3 separate regions of the Homo sapiens genome follow, and regions 2 and 3 are each linked to region 1. Evidence: fine-mapped expression QTL. A gene starts in region 1. Each other region holds a variant in brackets. All regions are shown on one strand. Distances are between the middles of the regions.

Region 1 (8,180 bases):
TAAACCCCAGAGAAGCCTTCTTCCAGTTACTGTCATGACTTTATCTTATGGAAGCAGTTGTCAGAGCACTGGACTCCAGTTGTCTAACATTTTTCCCCCAATCATACAAGTTAAATACAGAAAAGCATACAGAAGAAATCATCATGATCCTGCTTCTTAGAGGCCCACCGTTCATATTTATTTATTTATTTTTGAGACGGAGTCTCGCTCTGTCACTGAGGCTGGAGTGCAGTGATACGATATCGGCTCACTGCAACCTCCACCTCTTGGGTTTAAATGATTCTCCTGCTTCAACTTCCCGAGTAGCTGGGATTACAGGTGTGTGCCACCATGTTCTGGCTAATTTTTCTCTAAAAGTAGAGACAGGTTTTCACCATGTTGTCCAGGCTGGTCTCAGACTTCTGACCTCAAGTGATGTGCCCGCCTCGGCCTCTCAAAGTGCTGGGATTACAGGTGTGAGCCTCTGTACTCAGCCCATATTTTGATATATTTTCTTCTGGTGTTTGTCCTGTAGATATGTTGGGATTATACGGATGCTAAATTGCTTTTTTCATTTACTATTATATCAAGAGCATTTCTCAAGATCATAAAATATTTTTTAATCATGTGACTTTTTATTTATTTATTTGTTTGTTTGTTTGTTGAGACAGGGTTTTGCTCTGTTGCCCAGGCTGGAATGCGGTGATGCAATCTTGGCTCACTGCAGCCTCCACCTTCCGGGTTCAAGTGATCCTCCCACCTCAGCCTCCTGAGTGCCTGGGACTATAGGCATGCACCACTTACCCTGGCCTGATTTTTAACATTGCAAAAAATTCATGATTGTACCAAGATTTGTCCAAAACCCAACTGTTAGTCATTTATCCTTGCATGCTATTTTTTTTTTTTTACTGATCTCTGATTATTTTCTTAGGATACCCTCCTAGACGCAGAATTACTTGGTCATAGGATAAGAACATTTTCAAAGCCCTTAATACATATTTGTTTTAGCTCCTAGTACTAGGTCTATTACATAGTAGGTACTTAGCAAATAATTGTTGAATGAATGTACGAATGCCCTCCAGAAAGGTGGCGCCAATTTATACTCCCACCTGCAGTAAGAGAAAAGAGCCTTGTCTTGGTCAGTCCACATCACAATAGGAGTAATGATTATAGCTGGATTTTGGTTTCTGTGACTCTGGCAGAGAAATAATCTATTTGCCTTAAAACAAAGAAATGAAAGTAAAAAGTTGAATCCTCCCTAAATGACATATGGTTTTGCTTTAATAGACTGCTGCTTTTAAACACACTGGCACAAAAGTGGAATGGAGGGAGAGTTCTGATTATTTTAGGGCTGAATCATGAAGGTCCAGGATTCCTTCTTCACATCTCGCTCTATTAGATCTTGGCCCCTGGGACCAATCTCATGGCTACTTGACTCAACGGGGCTGCCCACCAATCCCAATAAGCTTGAGATCTGGAGAAGGGACCCTTTATGTATGATGTGGGCCTTTCCTGTGATGTCAAATTTTGGTGGTGGTGGTGGGATTACCAAGGAACTTTGTTCCCTTATCTGAAGTGTAGAAATTTAGTGGAGGCAAATTTAAGAGTTAGGAACCTTCCATTCTGTCAACTGTAGGGGAAGGAGGAAACTAATATTGACTTTGTTTTGTTTTTTTTTTGTTTTTCCGGAGACGGTCTTGCTCTGTTACCCAGGCTGGAGTGAAGTGGCATGATCATGGCTCACTGCGGCTTCAACCTCCTGTGCTCAAAAAACTCTCCCACCTCAGCCTCCTGAGTAGTTGGGACCACAGGTGTGAGCCATCATGCCCAGGTATTTTTAAAATTTTTTTGTAGAGACGGGGTCTCACCATATTGCCCAGGCTAAACTCCTGGACTCAAGCCATCCACTCTCCTCAGCCTCCCAAAGTGCTGGAATTACAAAGGTGAGCCATCATGCCTGACCACGGTTTGAGGTGTTTTTGTTTGTCTGTTTTTTTGTTTGTTTTTTGAGACAGAGTCTCACTCTGTCACCCAGGCTGGAGTGTAGTGGTATGATCTTGGCTCACTGCAACCTCCCCCTCCCGGGTTCAAGCAATTCTCCTGCCTCAGCCTCCAGAGTAGCTGGGTCTACAGGCACGTGCCACCATGCCCAGCTAATTTTTATATTTTTAGTAGAGGGGGTTTTGCCATGTTGGCCAGGCTGGTCTCAAATTCCTGACCTCAGGTGATCCACCCACCTTGGCTTCCCAAAGTGCTGGGATTACAAGCGTGAGCGATCATGCCTGACCACCGTTTGAGTTTTTACTATGTGCCAAGCCCCTTCCCAGTCTACTGCATTCCTTGTATTAACCTTTTCATACAAATAATATTATCTCCACTTTGCAAATTGGGGAGTTGGGACTCAGAGAGGTTGGGTAACTTATTGAAGATCACACAGCTGGTAAATGCCAGAGCCATGGAGATGATGGTCCTCCAATTCTAAATTTAACTCTTCACTATCCTGGAATGCTGCCCTAGGAGAGGGCAGTGTGGGTGAAATTTCTAGGTGTATATGGAGATGGGGGGGATGAGGTGGTGCCAGGATTATGGCTTTGGGTTCAGGCAGACTGTGGGCAGATTTAGGGCTGAGAAGTTGATCCCAAGGTTCTCTGGCTTGGCTCTTGGTTTGAAGTTCTTCTAGTCCATATGGTGGGATCAAAAACTCCCAAGTCTAAGGGATGTGGTTGAGCCCGCAGTGGGGGCCAAGAGTAGAGGCTAGGGGTCTCTGGACCATTTTATAGGGTCTCCAGTTCTTAGAGCTTGGGTCTGAGGGTTCTGGGGCCCAAGACCTCCAATTATGGGGTCCAGCTCTTAGGTGTTCAGGCCTGAGGAGCCACGTTCAAGAGTCCCTGTGAAGTTTCAATAGGAAGGGCTTGTTTCAGAAAGTCTCTGGGTTTGCAGGGCTCAGACTGGGGGTCCCATCCTAAAGGCCCTTTTTCTGAGTTTTAGGGTCCTTGGGCCTGGGGGATGAGAGAGATCCAGTTCTGAGGGTTTCAAGAGGTACGGTCCCCGAAAAGCCCAGTTCTGAGAGGCCTGGTTTGGAAATCTCGCCCTGAAGATTCCTGGATCCCAGGGCTCAGGACCAGGCGTCTCTGGATCTGAGGATCCTGGTAGTGATGGCTTAGGGTGGTGTTCCCTGGTCCGAAGCCCGGAGCTAAGGGCACCGGGTCTGCGGTGCGGCTGCGAGGAGCAGGGAAGCGCAGGCCCATGGCAGCCGCGAGGCGGAGGAGCGGGCCAGCGGGCGGCAGTGCTGGCGGCCCCCACACGTTCTGCGCTGGGTCGGCGCTAGGACTCCGGGGCGGCGGCCGTGGGAAGGGCGGCGCTAGGACCCCGCGGGCCCGGCGGCGCGTGGGGCGGCGCGTGTTGACAGCGGCGGCGGTGGAACCGGGCGGGCGGCGGGAGTCGGCGCCTCGGGTTCCTACCTCGCGTCCCTAGGCGGCGGCGGCCGGGCGTCCCGGGATGGCCTTCATGGAGAAGCCGCCAGCCGGCAAGGTGCTGCTGGACGACACGGTGCCGCTGACAGCAGCCATCGAGGCGAGCCAGAGCCTGCAGTCCCACACGGTGCGCGGCCCAGCGGGCGGGCGGGCGGCGTGGGGCGGCCCCGGGCCGCGAGGGGGCTGCGGGCTGCCTGGCGCGGGCCGGGCAGGGTCGTCGGACGGAGACCGGGCCACAGGGTGGGCGGCCCTGGCCGAGAAGGCTGTGGCGCGCCGCTGGGTCTGGGTCAGGGCCCCTGGGGCCCAGGCGAACGCTGAGGCCCGGAGGGGCCAAGGATGGGGACCGCAGCTCCCGGCGCCGCGGGGTGGAAGGAGCTCGGCGGCGACCAGGAAAGCGACTCCGAGTTGGGGGGCGGGGGCGGGGGCTGCGGGATTCCCGGGCTCACCTTGGACTAGGGGAGCAGGAACGAGACCGCTCAGGACCATCCACTTCTGCCCGCCGCCAGCCTTTTCCTTTTTGAGGCCGTGTAATTTCCTCCTTGCAGCTGAGGGTCTGGGTGATGGGGATGAGGGTGTGCCGGGCCAAATGAAGTGTGACTCCAGAGCCTACTTGTTGGGACAGCAGAGTGTAAGTGGCTGGGGTCTGCAGCCCCGTTTCCAGGTCAGCCGCTTGGCCCTGGTCCCGGGAAGTGGTGGGGGCGGCAGTCGGGGCGCTGTTAAGCAGGTGTATGAATGTGCTTCTCTAACTTGCTCTTTAGTGGGCAGTGGTAGCATTCATTTGAGTTTAAAATCCACTCGAGTAGCATAAAGGAGTAATAGGTCCTCATAGTAAACATTGGCAGGGTTCATTTCTGCTACATATACGGTCTTTTATGGGGCTTTAAAACCGTGGTTGTTTTCATTTGCTTGTACCTTTTTTTTTTTTTGAAAGGCCCACTATGCATTATAATTTCCAAGCAATAAATCTAGGAACCAGCAAGAAACCTGGAGCTATCAGCTAGTGGGACTTTTTTGGAAAAGTAATGAGTGAGGAGAGAGATTCCTTCAATTGTGATGTTTTGTCAGTCCACCGAATCAGATTCAGACTCAGAGGCTTGTTTGTTTACCATTGCAGTGTGTTTGGGGGGTCATCATCTGGAGGCTAAAGCTCACAATAGCCTTCTGTTTCTCTTTTCGTTCAAGCTCTTCTGATGACTTCAAAGAGACCTTTTATTCTGTTGTATTAAAGTGAGACTTTTTTGAACCTCAGTTTCCTCTTCTGACAGCCGTGCTTTGTAGGGCTTGAATTGTTCAAAGCATTCACTTCCAGTTAAGAAAATTATTATCTTTTTAAAAAGGGCTATTTATTTCACGCTGTGTGTCTTTAATCCTATTCTGTAGACATGTGAGAAGGCACATACAGGACAGAATTTGTTAAACTTGCTATCATTTGTGCCTAAAGGGAGTATGGCATAAGGGTTGAAATTTAGGATAGGGAGTCAAGAGTAATTCAGCTATTAAATTTGATTTTTGACTTGACTATTGGCAAGTAAGTCTTATAACCTTTCAGGGAATAGTGTCGAGTCCTTTAGGTTTATTTTGTATTGAAAATAAAGAGATAGATGTTTCTAAATACTCACAAATTACTTTCCCTAGGAAGCATTCATGATTTCTACAGCCCCAGCCCATGTGCCTACCCACACCTTAATCTTGATTAGTTTGTCCTGTAATTACTTCTTTACTTTTTGTCTCCACCAGGCTACAAGAGGAGGGGCACTTCTTCCTCACTTTTGAGTCTCATTCCCTGGTTTTTGATAGGATTTCAAATGTGTTTATCAAATGACTAAATAATCCAACTTCAACCTTACTATGCCTCTTTTTCTGTTTATGTAAAATGGTAATTGTAAACATTGAAAAAATAACTTAGAGATCAGTGCTTTAGCTAGGTGGCGAAAGATGTAATAGGATTCTGTTTTTATTGTAAGGGTGTGTGTGTGTGTGTGTGTGTGTGTGTGTCTGTGTGTGTGTGTGTGTGTGTGTGTGTAGAGACAGCGTCTCACCATGTTGTCCAGGCTGGTGTGTGTGTGTGTGTGTGTGTGTGTGTGTGTGTGTGTGTGGAGACAGCGTCTCACCATGTTGTCCAGGCTGGTCTGGAACGCCTGGGCTCAGGCCGTTCTCCTGCCTCAGCCCCACAAAGTGCTGGTATACAGATGTGAGCCACCACACCTGGCCCTGCAGATCTTTTCTTTAAAAAATAAAATAATTTAGGGTAGAAAATGGCAGTTCTTGTAGGGATGACTGACCACAAAAGACAGTGACTCACAGGAGACCCATAGAGGCAGATGTGGTAGAGTAAAAAACTGTAGCATTGTCTTGCGTAATTTTTTGACTGTTCTGTGTTCTTGTCATTTTAGCTGTAAAGTTTGACTGAGAAATGTTGCATCAGCCCTGAAGTTTATTGAGAAAATCTTACGCTGATGCAAACTTTTTGGACTGTTAGTGTCTTATGAGTAAGTCTTTTTTAAAACAGGAACTGTTGGAAATTATTTTGGAAAGAAGTAGTTGTTAAGAGGGGTATGTAGAAGAGAAAGGCACTGTTTTTTCTTGGGGAGATTGAAGTTGGCTTTCCAGCTTGGTAGCTGAAGGGAGATGGTGTTCCAGAAGTCAGAGCTCTACTCTCGCTTTGAAATGCTGAATCTCTAGGAAGTTACTCCTTGGCTGTAGACAGAAACATACGGAGTTAGAGACAGACTTGGGGTTGGAAGAGGCAAGACCTTAATACAGGTCTGAGCTGATACTTGCTAGTCATGTGATATAGGCTGGGCAAGTCACTTAAACCTTTTTGAAGTTTAGTTTTGTCATCTGTAAATGGGAGTAATAAATGCCTGCCCTGCCTGCCTCCCAAGGTTGTTAGGAAGATCAAATGAAATCATCTTGATGAAGTATTTGTAAAATGTATTCCTTCCTCCCTCCATCTCTTCACTCCCTGACAACATTTGTGCAAAGCGTTAAACACATTAGAGGGCGTTATTGCAAGCAAGCTCATTTCTGTCCATAGTTCCTTTCATTTATCAAGTTTGTTTAACCTTGGGAAACATATATATATATATATATATATATATATATATATTTTTTTTTTTTTTTTTTAATACCAATGGGGTTCTTGCTGTGTTGCCCAGGCTGGTCTTGAACTCCTGACCTCAAGTGATCCTCCCACCTCAGCCTCCCAAAGTGCTGGGATTATAGGTGTGAACCACTGCACCCAGCTGGGAAACCACCTATAACAGAAATGATTTAGGATTTGTGAACTTGGTAGGGAAAAATTCTGTGGTTTGGAAAACTGAGTCACCAGAAGGATGAAGGGAACACAAGGTCACCACCAGAAAGGCATATTTGGATGAGCAACTGGCAGAAAGGACATGTGTTGGTAGGTGATTCTGTGCTTTGCTGATGCTGATGCATCATTTTTATGGAGCAAAATGAATTTAGCATTAAGAGCTAGACCAGCCCTCTGCTGCAAGGAAATGAAGCTTCTATAAAATCAGAAAGGCTAGTATTTAGGGGGAGGATGCTTTCAGGTTAGGTTTGGAGGAAGAAGGAAGATTTTCCAGACAAAAGGAATTCTGGTGAAAAGCCACACAGGTGAGTTGTGAGAAAATTTAGGAGGACCAAGAGAGGACAAGGGAAAGGTAAGTTCTTGGCTATATAAAAGGGAAAACTTTTTAAAGTTAGTAGACTAAAAAAATGCTTACATAGCTGAAATAGAAACCAGAGGAAACAAAGTTTTGGAAAGCGCTGTTATCAAATGTGCACATCCAATTTTTGCTGGTGGGTAGGCTGTGTGTGATAGCTTTTCATCTCAGTTTTCTCCTTTTTTTGGGGGGTGGGGGACAGAGTCTCGCTCTGTCACCAGACTAGAGTGCAGGTCGCAATCTCAGCTCACTGCAACCTCCACCTCCCAGGTTCAAGCGATTCTTCTGCCTCAGCCTCCCAAGTAGCTGGGATTACAGGTATGCACCACCATGCCTGGCTAATTTTTGTATTTTTAGTAGAGATGGGGTTTCACCACGTTGACTAGGCTGGTCTTGAACACCTGACCTCAGGTGATCCACCTGCCTCGGGCTCCTAAGGCGCAGGGATTACAGGTTTGAGCCACCATGCCTGGCAGTTTTCTCCTTTTTAAATATTCTTCTGTGGAGTTCATCTGGATCAGGGACTGTTTATCTTCCATTTGGACATTTTGTTTTTGAGAAACAGATAATTATAGTGATAGTTAAGGCACAATAGAAAACATTTTTTAAAATCAGTGGAAAAGATAATATTACATGTTAAAATCTTTACTGAAAATGGATCTCTCCTTGAACTTTTGATATTTGGAAACTGCATTCCTGCATGGCTTATTTATTCAGCTATACTCATTCATTCAACAAAAATGTATTAAATGCCTACTATGTGCCAGGCACATGCTAGAGATAGAATGGTGAACCAGACAGCTCCTGCATCCATGGAGCTTTTGTTCTGTTGGATTCCAAGGTCTTTTTTTTTTCATTGTGAGACAGGTTCTTGCTCTGTCACCCAGGCTAGAGTACAGGACCACAGCTCACGGCAACCTCAGTCTCCTGGCTCAAGGAATACTCCTGCCTCAGCCTCCTGAGTAGCTGGGACTATAGGCATGCACCACCATACCTGGCTAATTCTTTGATTTTTAGTAGAGATGGTGTCTTGCTATGTTGTCCAGGTTGGTCTCAA
Region 2 (8,180 bases), 91 kb after region 1:
TAGAACTAAGCACACTCCTCATATCCATTCTGCTCTTCAGAGGTAAAACCTTCATGGCTTTTCTGAAGTGAGCGTCATGCTTGTAAATAAATAAAAATAGTATCTAACTGGCTCAGAGGACAAAGAACATGAAGAAAGTGACTCATTAGGTGGCTCAAAAAGCGACTCATTGGTTATTCTATAAATACGTTTGCCATGTTTTAAAAGGCTCACAATCGTGTTTACAAACCAGTGCTGTGGTTAATTTGAGTATATCCTAGTTTCGAAGTGAGAATAATCAGCTTGTGATTCAGACTAATATTTTACTGTCTGTTACTATTTGATTAAATGACACTAAAATCTGAATAATGACTTGTGTCCCCCCTTTCTCTCTCTCTCTTTGCTGTTTTCAGTAGAGCATGCACCATTTTGAACGTGAATTTTCGGTAAAGTAAACTATGCTGATTTCTCAGACTTTAAAGATGCTCTGTTTCTGTGTGTGAAATAGGACCCAAAGTGTCTCGATTGCTGAAGTGATGAACAAGTGGGAAAGCAGATTTGAGACTATTTCCTTATCTGAATATTTAAATGAAATACAGCATCTTTAAAAAGCACCCAGTGACTTCATCTATATTCATTTCATTTTCATCATGACCTTCAAAATCTTCATTTTCACTCTGATTTCAGTTTTAAAATACAGCTCTAAAACCTGCAAATCAACTGCATGGCATTTTGGTATATTTTAATTTTGGAAACCATAACTCTCAAAGTCCCGTTGCTGCAAAAATGTTGATTCCTAGTTACTCTGATGAAGAGGAAAGAGTGTTAGGCACTTGAGCTCTTAGTTACAGGGAGACAACTTACTGGCTTTTATAACTGACGGTAGGGAAAAACAGTTCTTTTGTAAGCATCCTTTATAATTCTCGAGCTGTGACAGGAGTACAGCCTCCTCACCTGCCTGAAGCCAAAGGAGAAGGTGGTTCTCCCGAGAGCTGGGGGCTTGCCTGCTTCGGTTCTCTCCTGAGGGTGGCTGGTAAGTCTGGTGTTACCCTAGTGTGGTCTCATGGCCACTTGGCCTCCCTTCCTGTATGTGACCACAAAGGAGCTCAGAATTAGAGAGACTGTAGATTACCCACTGCTGGCTGCTAACATGGGCCTAAGAGTCGGTGGGGAAGGGAGCCAGGCGCAGTGGCTCACATCTATAATCTCAGCACTTTGGGAGGCTGAGGCGGGCGGATCACAAGGATCAGGAGTTCAAGACCAACCTGGCCAACATGGTGAAACCCCATCTGTACTAAAAATACAAAAATTAGGTGGGCATGGTACCACGCGCCTGTAATCCCAGCTACTCGGGAGGCTGAGGCAGAGAATCACTTGAACCCGGGAGGCGGAGCTTGCAGTGAGCCGAGATCGCGCCACTGCACTCCAGCCTGGGCAACAGAGCGAGACTCCATCTCAGAAAAAAAGGAACTGGAGGGAGGGACCCTCAGACATCCTGTCCACAAGGCTGTCAAGGGGGTTTCTGGCCTGGCATTCCTCCCTAGATCTGACCTACGCTCTCCCTGCAGCATTCTCTGCCCTCTGACAGGGCCTCTGCTGGACTGCCAGGTTCCCGTGTGGTTTGGTGGAGAAGATTTTGGGGTGGGTAGAGTAAGTAGTTGGCTCTCAGGGATTTTGTCTAAGAGAAAGTGAGATGGGAGAAATCGGGACTGACCTGGTCGTAACTGAAGGTAAGCTGTTTGCAGCATCCCCCTTCCTGGGTGCAAATTCAGGTATCATAAGTCTAACATGGAATCGGTCTGCTCTCATATGTGGCCTGGAGATAAGGGTATTGGAGGTCTCTTGGCAGGAAGGCCTCATTCACATCTGAGGGGTGGAGAGCGCGCAGGCAGCAGGCAGTTGTTCCCAGGTTTGTCACAGGCCAAATGGTAACTTTCATTTGGCCCTTGTTGCCCCTGCCCCCTCTTCCTCCATTGTTAGCCATGTGTTGTAGCTGAAGCCCCAACGGACCTTTCAGGAAGCTTGTGGACCATGGAAAGGGCCAAAAGGAAAAGCCAAAAACAATCAATGGGGCAGACTGAGTGAGACCGAGTCCCAGGTCTGTGTTCCTGCCTCCTCCAGTTTCCACCTTCTGACCCCTAGACCTCCTCTCCCCTCCAGAGTGTTCCAAACTGGCAAGCTGGGTCTGGCCTTCCTTGCCCTGGTTGTACATAAGAGCCACCATGGTTGTTGTAGGCCCAGTGAGGAAAAGTGGACTTGCTGGGACATCAAGCCCCACCGGACTGCTCCAGCCTGCTGAGGCCACATCAGGGAGATCCTGCTGCCTGTCCTTTCGTTCCATCTGCTTTACTGGAGCCCTGGAGCCCTTTGGACAGTGTATTTATTGACACCACCTACATTTTCAAAGAGACTCATTTAAAGTGACAGTGGAAAATCCATGTCCATTTACTTGGACAGTGGAAAATCCATGTACTGAACCCCACCCTCAACTCCCAAACTCTGCGGTGGTGCATTTGCACTTCTAATTTTGAGGGCCTGGTAATGACGCCAAAACCAAGGGTTGGTTCTCTGTGAGGCCAAGCAGTTTTGTTCTGTGCCAAGATGGCAGCCCCTACCCCTCAGCCCAGCCCTGAGGCCCGTCTCCAGCCCCCCAAAATCCTTGCCTGGAGGGCTAGTCAGTCTCTAGATGGCCAGTGCTGAGCCTTTAGTAGAACTCCCAAGTACCGCCGCAGCCGAGAGCCTGTCCTTAACTGCACAGTGATTCTTCTGCCGGGGGTCAAAGCACAAACCTGGGAGGCAGAAACCCTGGAGCTCCTTCTGTTACACTACGTGGCCCTGAATATCAAGTCCAGATTCCACTGCCCTTTTCTGGCTATTGGGTGGGAGGGTGCTGGGGAAGGGCACTGGCACCTACTTACCCCCAAGTGGGCAGAGCTCACTCCTTCGGGCCCACTTGGTGTTGCAGTCAAGAGACTCAGTTCCAAAAACCTTCAGCAGAGGTCTCCCCTCCTCCTGGTATTTCACTGGTTGCTCTCCAGAAGTCCTCTTCAGAGGAATGCTCATCACACATGCTTATTCTCCGTTTTCCCACTTCAACAGTTACTTCAGGTTTAAAGTCCTTTTTATCTCTGTAACCTGGTGACATAAAGCCAGGAACATTTTCCCACAATCCACCTTAGCATAAAACATAACAATTTCATTCATCAGTTGTTA[T/C]TGTGTAGAACCAATGAACATGTTGGTCATTTGTCTGTATTTAGTCTTTATTTGTATTGCTATCTTTGAGCATTCCAAGATTGCAGAGCATGAGCGTGTGTATTTGTGTGATTCTTTAATTTCAGCTGCCTTAGGTTTGAGTAAAAGATGTAAAGAAAGGTAAGTGATTTTCTATTGTAAGACTTTAACCCATACCTGTCACACTTGGTGAAAAGGATGTACTTACCTGAGTATTGTGTTGGTGATTCTGAGCCAGTCGTCCATACAAACTTAAGTAGGGTAGCTTTACCTGTTACTTATCACAACTCAGTAGCAGTGTAGGGGAAACCACCTGGCAGAATGTCTCCCTGGAGTAGCCCTGGGAGGGACAGAGACAGCATCTGACAGAGTCTCAGAGAGCTGCAAGGTCACAGGAGACGAGGCAACTAACTGTGGCACAGGAACATTCTTTAAGGCAAGGCTTTTTCTGAACTCGGGTGTTTATTCTGTCCTGAGAGAACCATTCATTGATTCTAAAATATAAAATTCGAGTTGCAAATGTCCATGTGCCTGGAAGCTGAGGGAAGTTTTAGACACCTGCCCAGTTTCCCTCTCCTTGCCCACTGCGGTACAGCACGACATTCTAGTTTCTCCTGATGCTTCGTCAAAGACATTTAGTGCAGTTATGTCCTGTTCCTTGGTTGGGCCACAATGGAGAGAACAGTACTTGAGAAGGATTTCTCTGTAAGAATACCATGGCAGAGAGACCCCTCTGCCCCCTGCTTTGCATTGCTAACAGTTATTAGCATTTTATATTTCTTTAATGCAACCTAATAGGAAATTATTATTCGAGACAGACTCCTCTGGGAAATGCATAACCCAGGAGGCACTGATTCCTTGCTGAGAATCCTGAGTGGTCTGTCATTTTACATAAGATCACATCCTTCAAACATTGTGTATGTTGGAGCAGCGAAAGAACTGTTCACCCCTTATGAATAACTGACATTCAGGAAGCCCAACTCCATCATGCAGATGTCTATCTTTAATTGCTAGCTCAGAAGCAGACAGAGCTTCCTGGGACCTGGCTAAAGTAACTGATAGATGGAACTCTTCTTTGGGGACTATTACTTTGCAAATGGGGTCAGAGCCTCATCTATGCAGAGAATGTCACCATATGTGGTTTCATGTAATCTGTAATTATTTGTTCCAACAGCCTTTAACATGACTATTGTTTGAGAAACATGGCAACTTTTAATTCCCCTTTGATGCTTCTAGCTTTCTTTAGTATTTTAAGAACTCATACAGTACTAGGTATGTTGGTCCCTCTGAGAAAAACATGTGGACTCTCACCAGTCCGTTGTGCTCAGGACTGAGCAGCAGCGTGTGTGCAGGGCAGCTGTGGAGGTGAATACTGATTGTCCCCCTTTTCCTCCACAGGGATATCTGCATTACCTCCACCTCCTCCACCTCCACCACCACCAGCAGCTCCCTTGCCTCCTGCGAGCACCGAGGCACCTGCCCAGCTCTCGTCTCAGGCTGTGAATGGCATGAGCCGAGGGGCCTTGCTCAGCTCCATCCAGAATTTCCAAAAAGGAACTTTGAGGAAAGCCAAAACCTGTGATCACAGTGCTCCGAAGATCGGCTGAAGCTTCCTGTTTACACTTGGAGGGAAAAGTTCTTTTTTATTCCTACTCACCCCTACCCCCCAAACTACCCTCTTCCTGGGAAAGTAATTGCTGAGCCAGTACAGCCACAAACAGTACTATTTTGCAGATGCTCATGTAAGCAGCTTTTCGAGAGAAATAATTCTTTAAGCAGAATAAAGTTAGGCTGGCATTGCTCCCTTAAGATCTTGCTCCTTTATTAACCCTGTAAAGGAGTCTTGTTTATCCTCTAATGGCCAGGCTTTTGGGACAGCAGCATATTGAAATATTTTCACCAACTAAAGGAAATAGACAGAAAAACAATGACAATATTCAATCACAGCAGTAAATGGCCTTTGTGTTGCAATCCCTTCTACCCCATCAGACAGCTCCTAGAAACATTCCTCTTACAGTTCATTTCTCTAAAGCATTTTCTGATTCTTAGATAACTCCAATTTTTGCTACCTTTATCTTAGACATTAACACTATAGCCCAAAGCATAGTTACTTTGCTAAATCAGAAAGCAACTGAGTTCTTTGTTTTCTCCTCAAATAGAATGGGGAACGTTCACAACATTCTCTTAAGTTCTAACAGGAATACCATTGTGGTTATAGAACTCAGGGCTGCTAAAGCAACTACTCTAGACCCATAGTTCTTTTTAGTTAGATGTATTGAAACAGACAAAAATATTAACATCAGAAAAAGCTCTTGCCAATTAGAGGATCTTCTTAATCCTCAGCAATTAAGTTTGGGGTTTGAGGGGGGCAGGTCATTGTTACAACAGAAGTAAATTTGGCATCTATAGAAATCAATTATGATTTTTGAAAGATTTATCTAAATATATCAATATAGCATCTCTTTAATGTTAGTCATTTATTAGAAAGATCCTTTATCCTGATTTGCTTAAACCTTTCAATAAATTGCACTTTAAAGGATTATAAATAATCCATTTAAAAATTCAAGTACACACATCAGTGTTGGTTACTATGCAGAGAATGTCATTGTGTATAGTTTCATGTAATCTGTTATGTCAGCTGTATTTTTTATTAAAATCATGTCAAGAAAACGTGTTGTCTGTAGCTTGACAAGATATTTCAAATGAGAACTTTTTGTAGCGTCTGTTGTTAGCAAAGAATAGATTCACACAGTCTAAGGTTTCCTTCCTACCTATCCTGTCTCTTATTCTTTTGTGTCTCACTTTTCCTCTAAGAACTAAAAATCCTGCCTTGCTACTTAAATTAGGTACCACCTATATGCTTCTCTAACTAATTTAAACCCATCTTTTCCATCTCAGCTTCTGGAGGGCAGTATTTGACAGAATATCTGATCTTTGGAAATGGGAAAAACAACTGATATAAACTTTGCCATAATTTTAAAGAGAATGCTATTAGAATTAGGCATTTGGAGAGTCTGTGGAGAAGTTCCTGTTTCAAGTGTGATGCAACCTAGGTGATTACCTGATGGAGGCTTGTGAGGCCTGAGTCCTTCTGAAGTCAGTTTTGCTGACTATTCTGGATAGTTCAGATATATGAATACAAACAGGTAATGGTCTTGTACAGTATCAGCTTATTTTCCACATGGAACTAATTTCTTTTGTTGTTATTTTTAAGACAGGGTTTCGCTCTTTCACTCAGGCTGGAGTGCAGTGACCCAATCACAGCTCACTGCAGCCTTGACCTCCCAGGGCTCAAGCAATCCTCCTATAGGCACACCACCAGATACCTGGGTTTTTTGTTTTGTTTTTTTTGTTTTGTTTTTGTAGGCAGGGTTTTTGCAACGTTGCCCCAGGCTGGTCTCAAACTCCTGGGCTCAAGCAATCCCTGCCTCAGCCTCCCAAAGTGCTGGGATTATAGGCATGAGCTACTGTGGCCTGGCAGCACTAATTTCTTAATAAATAGAATTTCAAGTTTTCTACCCACATTGACTTTTTTTTTTTCTATCTATCTTTTCTTTGTAGAGATGGGGTTTTGCCATGTTCCCCAGGCTGGTCCTGAACTCCTACACTCAAGGGATCCACCCACCTCGGCCTCCCAAAGTGCTAGGATTACATGTCTGAGCCACCACACCCAGCCAATTCTTTTTTTTGAGACGGAGTCTTGCTCTGTTGTCCAGGCTGGAGTACAGTGGCGCCATCTCTGCTCACTGCAACCTCCGCCTCCTGGGTTCAAGCAATTATCCTGCCTCAGCCTCCCGAGCAGCTGGGTCTACAGGCGCATGCCACCATGCCCGGCTTTAGTAGACAGGGTTTCACCATGTTAGCCAGGATGGTCTTGATCTCCTGACATCATGTTCTGCCCGCCTTGGCCTCCCAAAGTACTGGGATTACAGGCATGAGCCACCACGCCCAGCCCAGCCAATTCTTTCAATATAAAAATACAATAGTCATGGCCAGGTGTGGTGGCTCATGCCTGTAATCCCAGCAGTTTGGGAGGGCCAAGGCAGGTGGATCACCTGAGGTCAGGTGTTCAAGACCAGCCTGGCCAACATGGTGAAACCCCACCTCTACTAAAAACACCAAAATTAGCCGGATGTGGTGGCTAATTTCCTACTGAGGCTGAGGCAGGAGAATCACTTGAACCTGGGAGGTGGAGGCTGCAGTGAGCCAAGATTGTGCCATCACACTCCAGCTTGGGGAACAGAGCCAAACATTGTCTCAAAAAAAAAAAAATTAGTCATGTTAGAAATTCCTTTATTCCTTATCAAAACAAACTAACAGTAAATGTATATTATATGCTTTAATTTTATACATATAAGTTATCTTGTTTGGATACATCTTTCATGAGGACTCTGCCACATCCATACTTTGTCCTTGTGGTGAGAGAGGATAAAATGTTATATAATTTGTTATTCAAAGAACATGGCAACCGTAACAGACAAAAGGAAGCATGGCATCTAGGGGAGGAGAGTGGAGAGTTTTCCATACACAAACACATTTAAACTTCCCTGTACAAAAATACCTGCTGTTGCTTTAGAAATCGTTTTCCGTTATGAATAGTCAGGTCTTGCAGTACAAATCCAGGTGCAGTGCCAGCAAGTATTTCAAATAAATTTCAACGACTTGATATTCAAGTCCAAACTAAATATTTAATGTTTTCTTTATTGCAAATATGATGTCTTTGACCTGAGGTATAGAGTTGTCCTCTAGAATCTTTGCATAAGGCATAGGGACATCAGCACCAGTGACACGAACAGCAGGAGCATCCAGGAAATTGAACGCAGGACCTAGGAGAAGGAAGGCTCAACTGAGAGAGTGCAAATGCCAGCTGGGCACTACCACCTTGGCACAGAGGTGTGGCTGACCAGGAAGAGAAAATGTAAGGAATGCTAATTATGGGGAACCGCTTTCTGGATTTGCTTTTAAAAATA
Region 3 (8,180 bases), 61 kb after region 1:
CATTCTGTTAAAAAGACAGATCACAGAACTGGATCCTTAGTCATGCTTTCTGATACGTATCCCAGGAACATGCTTAAATGCAGGTGACTTCTTTTTCTTTTTGCATATCAACTGCTTGAGGATACAGCTGGTAACTTTTAATACTTAATGAACCTTGGTTAAAGCCCCATCAAAGCATTTGGATGGTAATAACTTTCAGAAACACCATTCCTTCTTCATCTATCTTTTTCACTACATCTAAACTGAAGTGCTACTTTCCTGCCTTTTCCGTGAATAATTTCTTCATTTACTGTTTCTTTTTAAGTATAGCCTTTACTATGCCAACGTTATCAAATGGTTCTTTTACTTGTGCCTATGTAGCTGCGAATAATATTGCCAAACTTAATTTTTCTTGATTACCTAGTCAGTGAAACATATCAGTTGTTGCAAAAATTGTGCAGCTCTAAGCACATTTTTGCTTTTATGGCAGGTTGGAGAATAAGGAAGAAATATTTCTTGATGAAGATTAAAAATCAGCCAAAGGAACGGCTAGTGTTAAGCTGGGTAAGCTAGCTTTTTGCTTTGGTCTCCTTCAGTGACTTTAGATGGGTTAATGAAAGCAGATTTGACAAGAGAATTACAAAATTGTACTGTGCTCTTAAGTGATGATGTAAAGGCTTCCTTGGTCCATGTCAAAGAAAAGTCATTTTGAGTCATTTTCCTGTGTATTTGGTTATATAAATGCAATTATATTTGGTCAACTAGTAAACATTTGAAAAGAAACAAGAACAGCTTAAAATAACTCTCTGGAATCTCTTTAGGGTTTATAGTTTTGGAGTTTACTTCCCAAAAAAAAAAATACTTGGGCATTACTTTATCTCTTTGACTTTGAGAGTTTTAGTGATAGATTTGGTTAGTGGAATTAGATAAGATTACAGTTAAGTCTGGTATTTTTACACACTGCTTCTCCAGAAAGGTCTTGAGGCAGCCAGACTTAGTGTTGTTTTCGTCTTTGGTTTCCAGTCATATTTTGGATAATAAAATTAAAGGGAAAGACAAGGAATTTTTCTTTTGGTGACCAAAACAGTACCCTGATATTCCCTTCCATGTTTTCAGGCTGACCTTGGCCCAGACAAGTATTTGTCAGATAAAGATTTTCAGTGTCTAATCAAACTTCTGCCTTCTTGTTTGGTGAGTATACGTCTTTCTTTTATTCTCAGTGCTGATGATAGAGTCACAGTATTTTTTCTGGGTGAACATGGACAGAAAAGCTGGAAAACAGAATGGGGAGATACAGTGGATTTCAGGTCAGACTGAAATTGTGTAGGGCTAATCTCTTAGATCATAGGCTATTTGAAATGGCATTCATGACATCTGCACAACCCATGAAACATAGTAATTTAAATACAGACTTTGAATTTTAAACAAAGATGAGAGTAGGGAAGCAGCTACTTCTCCCAGCCTGTTGTTCTTGGTGAAGGTATTTATCTCAGTGGAACTGAAAGATACTCTTTCCAGCCTGAGAAAACAGAACTAATGAGGAATTTAGATAAGCTGGGTGAAGAAAAGGCAAAATAGCCATTTTTCTGTCTGAGTTACTACCTTCACAGGCTAACCAGATGACCTTTAGGAATACATGATATTATTTACACGACTACACAGCTCTAATCCAGGGCCTTCAGTGCAAAGAACCACGTTGATATATTTCAAAATATGTGCAGAATGTCTTCAGCAAAGACTAATCTGGCCAGGAAATTGAGTTAACATTGACATTCTTTATCTTGTCTGCATGAAGATGTAGTTCCCTGGAATGAATCACTAGCGAACTGAACACAATTACACTGACTTGTGCACTTGGTTTGGCAAGTTTATTTTTGGCCATATAGTGTCTTGTCAAGCTTGCAAACCAAGCTATTAATGAGGTGCAATGTGAGGCCAAAAAGACGCTTTAGTCTTAGAGCTTGATTGGTTGTGTGACATAGGCTGTCAGGACCTAGTTCTAAATTTCTTTTTTTTTTTTTTCAAGGTGGAGTCTCTCTTTGTCACCCAGGCTGGAATGCAGTGGTGCGATCTCGGCTCACTGCAACCTCCACCTCCTGGGTTCAGGCGATTCTCCTGCCTCAGCCTCCCAAGTAGCTGGGATTACAGGTGCATGCCACCACACCCAGCTAATTTTTGTATTTTTAGTAGAGATGGGGTTTCACCATGTTGGCCGGGCAGATCTTGAACTCCTGACCTCATGATCCGCCTGCCTCGACTTCCCAAAGTGCTGGGATGACAGGTGTGAGCCACCGCACCCGGCCCTAAATTTCTTTTAATAGAAGTGCTTCTTTAAAAAAAGAAGCACATAAAAATGGTGCATATTAATTGTAGCAAAGTCAGAAGGCAGATAAGCAAAAATAAGAAAATAAGCCGAGTGTGGTGGCTCATGCCTGTAATCCCAGCACTTTGGGAGGCTGAGGCGGATGGATCACAAGGTCAGGAGATCGAAACCATCCTGGCTAACATGGTGAAACCCTGTCTCTACTAAAAATAGAAAAAATTAGCTGGACGTGGTGGTGGGCACCTGTGGTCCCAGCTACTAGGAAGGCTGAGGCAGGAGAATGGCGTGAACCCGGGAGGCGGAGCTTGCAGTGAGCCGAGATCGTGCCACTGCACTCCAGCCTGGGCAACAGAGCAGACTCCGTCTCAAAAAAAAAGAAAGAAAAGAAAAGAAAACTCACCAGTAATCCCAGTCAAACAGAAGTATGAACCAAAATATTCAGTTGTTACTTTTTAAGAATTTTTATGATAAAAAAGTAAATTATATATGTAGTGCTTTAAAACCTGATTTTTTTTTCATTAATGGTGTACCATGAGCATCTTTAGTTGTTAGTAAATATAGCATCATTATTATGGGCTGTATAGAATTATCATTGGCTATACCTTAGTTTACTCAATCTTCTATTGACATTTAGATCACCTCCAGCTTTTTGCTCTTATTTTTTAAAAAAGAAAAAAGCCATAATGAACAATTTTTGCTAAACATTATACCCATACTTAATTTCTTAAGGTAAATACCTATAATTAATAACCAATGTGTAAGGAGATATTGTGACACTACATATTCTGTTCTTTATGAAGCCCACTAGCATTTTAACATTTAATGTGATTTTCTAACTCTATTATTCCTTCCGTATTTACTTATTAGTTGGCATTCTACTCTAAAGAGCTTCTCTTCTCCCTTTTAAAAAAATTTATATTAGTATGTACTCAAGGATTTTTATTCTACCCATTGTGTTTCTTTTTGGGGTGATGAAAATGTTCTATAATTAGATTGTATGATGGTTGTATAACTGAATATACTGAAAATCATTGACTTGTACAGTTTAAATGTGTGAATAGTAATGGCATGTGAATTATATCTCAACAAAGCTGTTAAAAAGTCAGCAGCAACCATTTTGATGTGATGATCAGGAGAACTTCATGATCAATTACTCTGTTTTCCTGGGTACACCTTTCCACCCCCCAACCTGCTGCATGCCAGCCTCCAAAATCCCTGCATAGCTCAGCTCCCATGGGTTTAAATTTTCATGATACTCCTTTGAGCTAGTGAACATTGTAATACCTGTCTGGACCCAGTTTGTTTCACGTAACCAGAATTCCAGGGAAAAACAGCACTTTCCTTTCACTCATTAAATAATTTGTCTTTTCTCCACCCCAGTTGCTTAATGTCAGTTTCTCCATCTGAGGAGGACACTGTGAATCTTTATGTTGCAGAATTCTATAGAAGGGTAGGAAGATTCATGCCAGCTACTGTGGAAAGGGCTGAGATTCCAGAAGATGCTACTTTTGCCTGTTTTCTGGCTAGTATGCTTCTTGGCTTGGCACCCAAACAGCAGTGTGGAATGTTAGGCAAAGCTGTGAGCAAAGACACATTGATCCTGGTCTCCATTTGGCTGTTCTGAGATTTGGCTGTATTCTTTACTGACTTACAGAGACAGGATATTAACACTATTATCCTCAAAACTCAGACATTTTATCTCTTCCACCACACTTTTGCCTGAGCTATGAGAGTGCACACACCAAAGAGGACCCCTTC[A/T]CTTGTGGAGTTTACCACATCCATTATCTGTCTCCTGTTTTCCTTTGTTCCTACAGTTTATGTCCCTTCCTCCATCTGAAGAAGGAGGAACTAGCTGGTAACTGAATAACTTGAAAATGCCATGTGTTCAGGGAATATCACTACATTCGTATGCAATTAAACCACCACAGTGCTACTTGACTCTGCATAACCAGATCCTGTATTTAAAAGGACCTAGATCCTGACGCAAATCAATGTGAATTTCTTTTTTGTTTTGACAGCACCCTTACATCTATCGGGTTACCTTTGCCACAGCTAATGAATCCTCAGCGTTGCTAATTAGGATGTTTAACGAAAAGGGAACATTGAAGGATCTGATCTACAAGGTACCTGTGCAAGTTCATGGTCATAAGGAATTCTCAAGTTCCTTTAGAACCTGTTATTGATACTTAGTCTCTAAGACTCCAGAGGCTAGGCCCTGAGGATTTGATGTTAGTTTTGATTTTATTTGGAATTTATTTTTATTCATGCAATAAAAACTCTACTTAGTTTGGTTAAAGAGCATTCCTTTTCCCATGTGAGGAAAGGTTGAACATTTAATAATTATGTCCATTACATGGCAAGCTGTTCTCTTAGGTCAGTTTTTAAGTTTGTGTTTTGCGCTTAACAAAGCAGTTCTGAAGAATTCGAACAATATGCAAGACTTTGGGGTCTGCTAAGGGCAAGACCAGGCACATCTTCACTGGGCTAGAGAAGGGATGGAACCTGGGTCAGCCTCTTTCTATCAACAATGCAGACTGTCGTATTTTAAAAACTCACATCTTGCAGCTGGCCATCTCTGGCGCCCCTAGCCTCTGTAGAATCCTGCCTGGTCAGGGAGTCTGTGTGCAGATATTGGCCCCTCTGCTGCTTTCTTACGTGTTCTTTGTTCTTTTCCAAAGGCAAAACCAAAAGACCCATTTCTAAAGAAGTACTGCAACCCTAAGAAGATTCAGGGCCTGGAACTCCAGCAAATAAAAACATATGGACGGCAAATATTAGAGGTAAGAGGTACTTTTGTTTAAGTTGCATTCAGATTTCATCCAAAATTGCATTATTCACCTGGAAAAGTTCTTAAGTAATATCCAAAATTACTTAAGTTGTCTGATTACTTATAAACTGATTGCATTGTCATATTTTGCCTCAAAAAGTAAATATTTGAGACTAAGGCAACAGTCACTTATGTCTACAAAATTCTTAAAGCTTTAGCTATTGCAATTTAGTGTCTGAGTTTTAAGAACTTTACTGTGTGGATACCAACTTTTATATTATCTTTGGTTGCTCTTTATCCCCATGCCAAGGTTTTTGATTTTGTTATGTCATATGCATAGCCATATGGCTCCCTTACAGAAGTATAACCAACAGTGAGAAGGCTTTCCGACATCACCCTCTAGATCAGGATTCTCCAAGCTTCTGGGATTATGCAACCTTATCAGTAATAACCAATTTAATATCCCAATGTTATGTCTATTTAACTATAAATTATATGCGTGTACTATGCACATACATATATGTGTATGTGTGTATATATATTATATTTGTTTGGATGGAGACAGCATACTAGTAATATATTTTGTATATTATAAGTTAAAAAAATAACATTTTTAAAAAACAACAACTATGAAGAGAAGTTGTAATATTTTCTTCTAGTCCTTAGTGAATTGCTCTGGGCACCCCACTTGCCTATCACTGCTCTAGTTCACCAGGACATTGCAGGGCTATATCTAAGCATCTCTCTTACTGGGTAAGCCACTGATTATTTATATGGCAGCGGAAATATTTACTGCTTTTTCTGGGATCCTGTTGTGTGTTCCTATTAATAAACAGCTAAATATATTTGGAGGAGAGACTGAACTAGAGATGTTTTCTAGTTCAACCCCTTTTTCTGAATTACTGGCAGAAGCACTGATAAGATAGCTTCACTCATCTATGCAGGAGGATCAAGACTTTGCCCTGAAGAGAGCTGGCCTATTGGAATCAGAAAGTGCTTAAAGCAGAGCCTTTTGGCATCAGAGTTATTAATTCCAAGCATATGCAGGCTGCTTCTCTATTCTTTTGAGGAAAGAAAGAACTGATGTTGCATCTCACAGCCTCAAAACTGGAAAGCATTCAGCTTCACTTCCTTTTCCAAACAAATGGGTAGAGGTGGCATTTTTCTTCAGGAATCTTCTCAGTGACCTGTTTGGTTTTGTTTCAAAATATATTGACTAAAAAACAAAGTTTAACTTGTCTTATATCTGAATGAGTTTGGGGAAAATGTAACTTTCCCATATGTTTTGATAGGTACTGAAGTTTCTTCATGACAAGGGATTCCCTTATGGGCATCTTCACGCCTCCAATGTGATGCTCGATGGGGACACTTGCCGGCTGCTGGACCTTGAGAATTCCTTATTGGGCCTGCCTTCCTTCTACCGATCTTATTTTTCACAATTCAGGAAAATCAATGTAAGTTGCTAAAGTAATGAAATAGCAGGTTCATTTTTAGGTGTCAGTTATCCCCATGATCTGCCCATGTAGGAAATATGCACCAAGTAGTGAAAGGTATAGTTGGGACAGGCCTTGCCCGTCAGCCCTTGCAGCGTTGCTGTATCTCTGGGAGGCTGAGTTGAAATGGCGGGTGGGGTAAGGAGGGAGGTGGACTCACTGATTGGAAAACTGTGGAGGGTCGGACCAAGACCTTTGGGATACCTCATGAGGTTTTACAGAAGGCTTTGGAGTTGCATTTACGTTACCAATTAGGAACGGGGCTATCCCTGGGCTTTGTTTCTCAGAGAAGCCTTGGGGCAGGAGCGCGAGGGTCCACAAAGCCAAAGTGAAGGGTGAACACGCTGCTACTCTTTCTTCCACAGACATTGGAAAGTGTGGATGTCCACTGCTTTGGCCACTTACTGTATGAAATGACTTATGGACGACCGCCAGACTCGGTGCCTGTGGACTCCTTCCCTCCTGCCCCGTCCATGGCTGTGGGTCAGTATGGGGTTGGGAAGGGTCTTCTGGGCCCTAGTAGTGTGCAGAGCCACTCATCCCCTTTCCAGAGTCCAGGAAAGACCCAGAGGAAGTTGCTGTCCTCCACAGCCAGAAATTCTTACAAAATTTAAAAGTAGACCAAATTTGAGTAGTTTACTTAAATACACTTCTGTGAAAATTCAGGTGGCTTGTCCATTTGCCAGGCTATCTGAAATTTCTGGGAACTTTTTGCAAAATGCTTTAGAGCTTTGGAAGCAGGAGGATGTAAAGAGAAGTATGGCCTGCATGAGTGTGATGCAGAAGCTAGAGCCAGGCAACTTGAAGCCAGTCTTGAGGACCCAGGCAGGTGTCAGACGTCAGATCAAGACTGAAGTGAGACTTGTAAGAAACAAGAGAGGCCAGGCATGGTGGCTCACACCTGTAATCCCAGCACTTTGGAAGGCCGAGGTGGGTGGATCACATGAGGTCAGGAGTTTGAGACCAGCCTGGCCAACATAATGAAACCCCATCTGTACTAAAATTACAAAAATTAGCTGGGCGTGGAGGTGCATGCCTGTAATCCCAGCTTTTTGGGAGGCTGAGGCACGAGAATTGCTTGAACCCGCCTCTTGGGAGGTGGAGGTTGCAGTGAGCCGAGATTGCGCCACTGCACTCCAGCCTGGGCGACACAGTAAGACTCTGCCTCAAACGAAAACAAAACAAAACAAGAATGCCATAGGCCAGAAGCCTAGTAGATAAGAGCCTAGCAGGCCCAGACCTAGGGCAGGCAGGCAGGAATGCAGACACCAAGACAAATTGGATCCAGGAGCTCTTACAGCATTACCTGCGGGGGCTGAGGGGAGCTGGAGGACAAGTGAGAGCACCTTTAGGAAGGAGGGATGCAGGAACTGGTACAGACTCATCCAGGACCCTTTCATCCCCTCCACAGCCAGGCTGGCACCCACAGCTGGAGCAGAGAGAGGGGAGGGCAGGGTGGCTCTTGGACCCCTGTGCCTTGGAGATACTCAAGTCCACCCTTCACCAAGCGTTATTGTGTCAAAAGAGGCAATTCAAGAGAACAGGCCCTGGGACTATATTGTGTTGAATTTGAACCGCTGAAACTGAACAGTGACCTGTGGGTAGAAAAATCTGGCTG

What was found.
Region 2: its variant is fine-mapped to the expression of PXK in whole blood (TOPMed, PIP 0.98).
Region 3: its variant is fine-mapped to the expression of PXK in whole blood (TOPMed, PIP above 0.99). The same link has a PIP of 0.9 or more in blood mononuclear cells.

What each region holds. Positions count from the first base shown.
Region 1 is chr3:58,329,512-58,337,691 of GRCh38, forward strand. It overlaps PXK (PX domain containing serine/threonine kinase like), which reads left to right and starts at 3,381. Exons shown (of 18, transcript NM_017771.5): 1 at 3,381-3,579. The coding sequence starts at 3,478. RefSeq lists silencers at 3,155-3,684, 3,931-4,225.
Region 2 is chr3:58,420,144-58,428,323 of GRCh38, forward strand. It overlaps PXK (PX domain containing serine/threonine kinase like), which reads left to right. Exons shown (of 18, transcript NM_017771.5): 18 at 4,609-5,984. The coding sequence ends at 4,817. PDHB (pyruvate dehydrogenase E1 subunit beta) reads right to left here. Exons shown (of 10, transcript NM_000925.4): 10 at 7,487-8,036. The coding sequence ends at 7,891. Among named protein-coding and RNA genes, the nearest start is that of PDHB, 9.6 kb to the right of the region's middle. The variant T/C (reference allele first, on the strand shown) is at 3,193.
Region 3 is chr3:58,390,678-58,398,857 of GRCh38, forward strand. PXK (PX domain containing serine/threonine kinase like) reads left to right here. Exons shown (of 18, transcript NM_017771.5): 6 at 470-543; 7 at 1,096-1,170; 8 at 4,321-4,425; 9 at 4,981-5,082; 10 at 6,362-6,523; 11 at 6,928-7,045. Among named protein-coding and RNA genes, the nearest start is that of PDHB, 39 kb to the right of the region's middle. RefSeq lists an enhancer at 6,829-7,328. The variant A/T (reference allele first, on the strand shown) is at 4,061.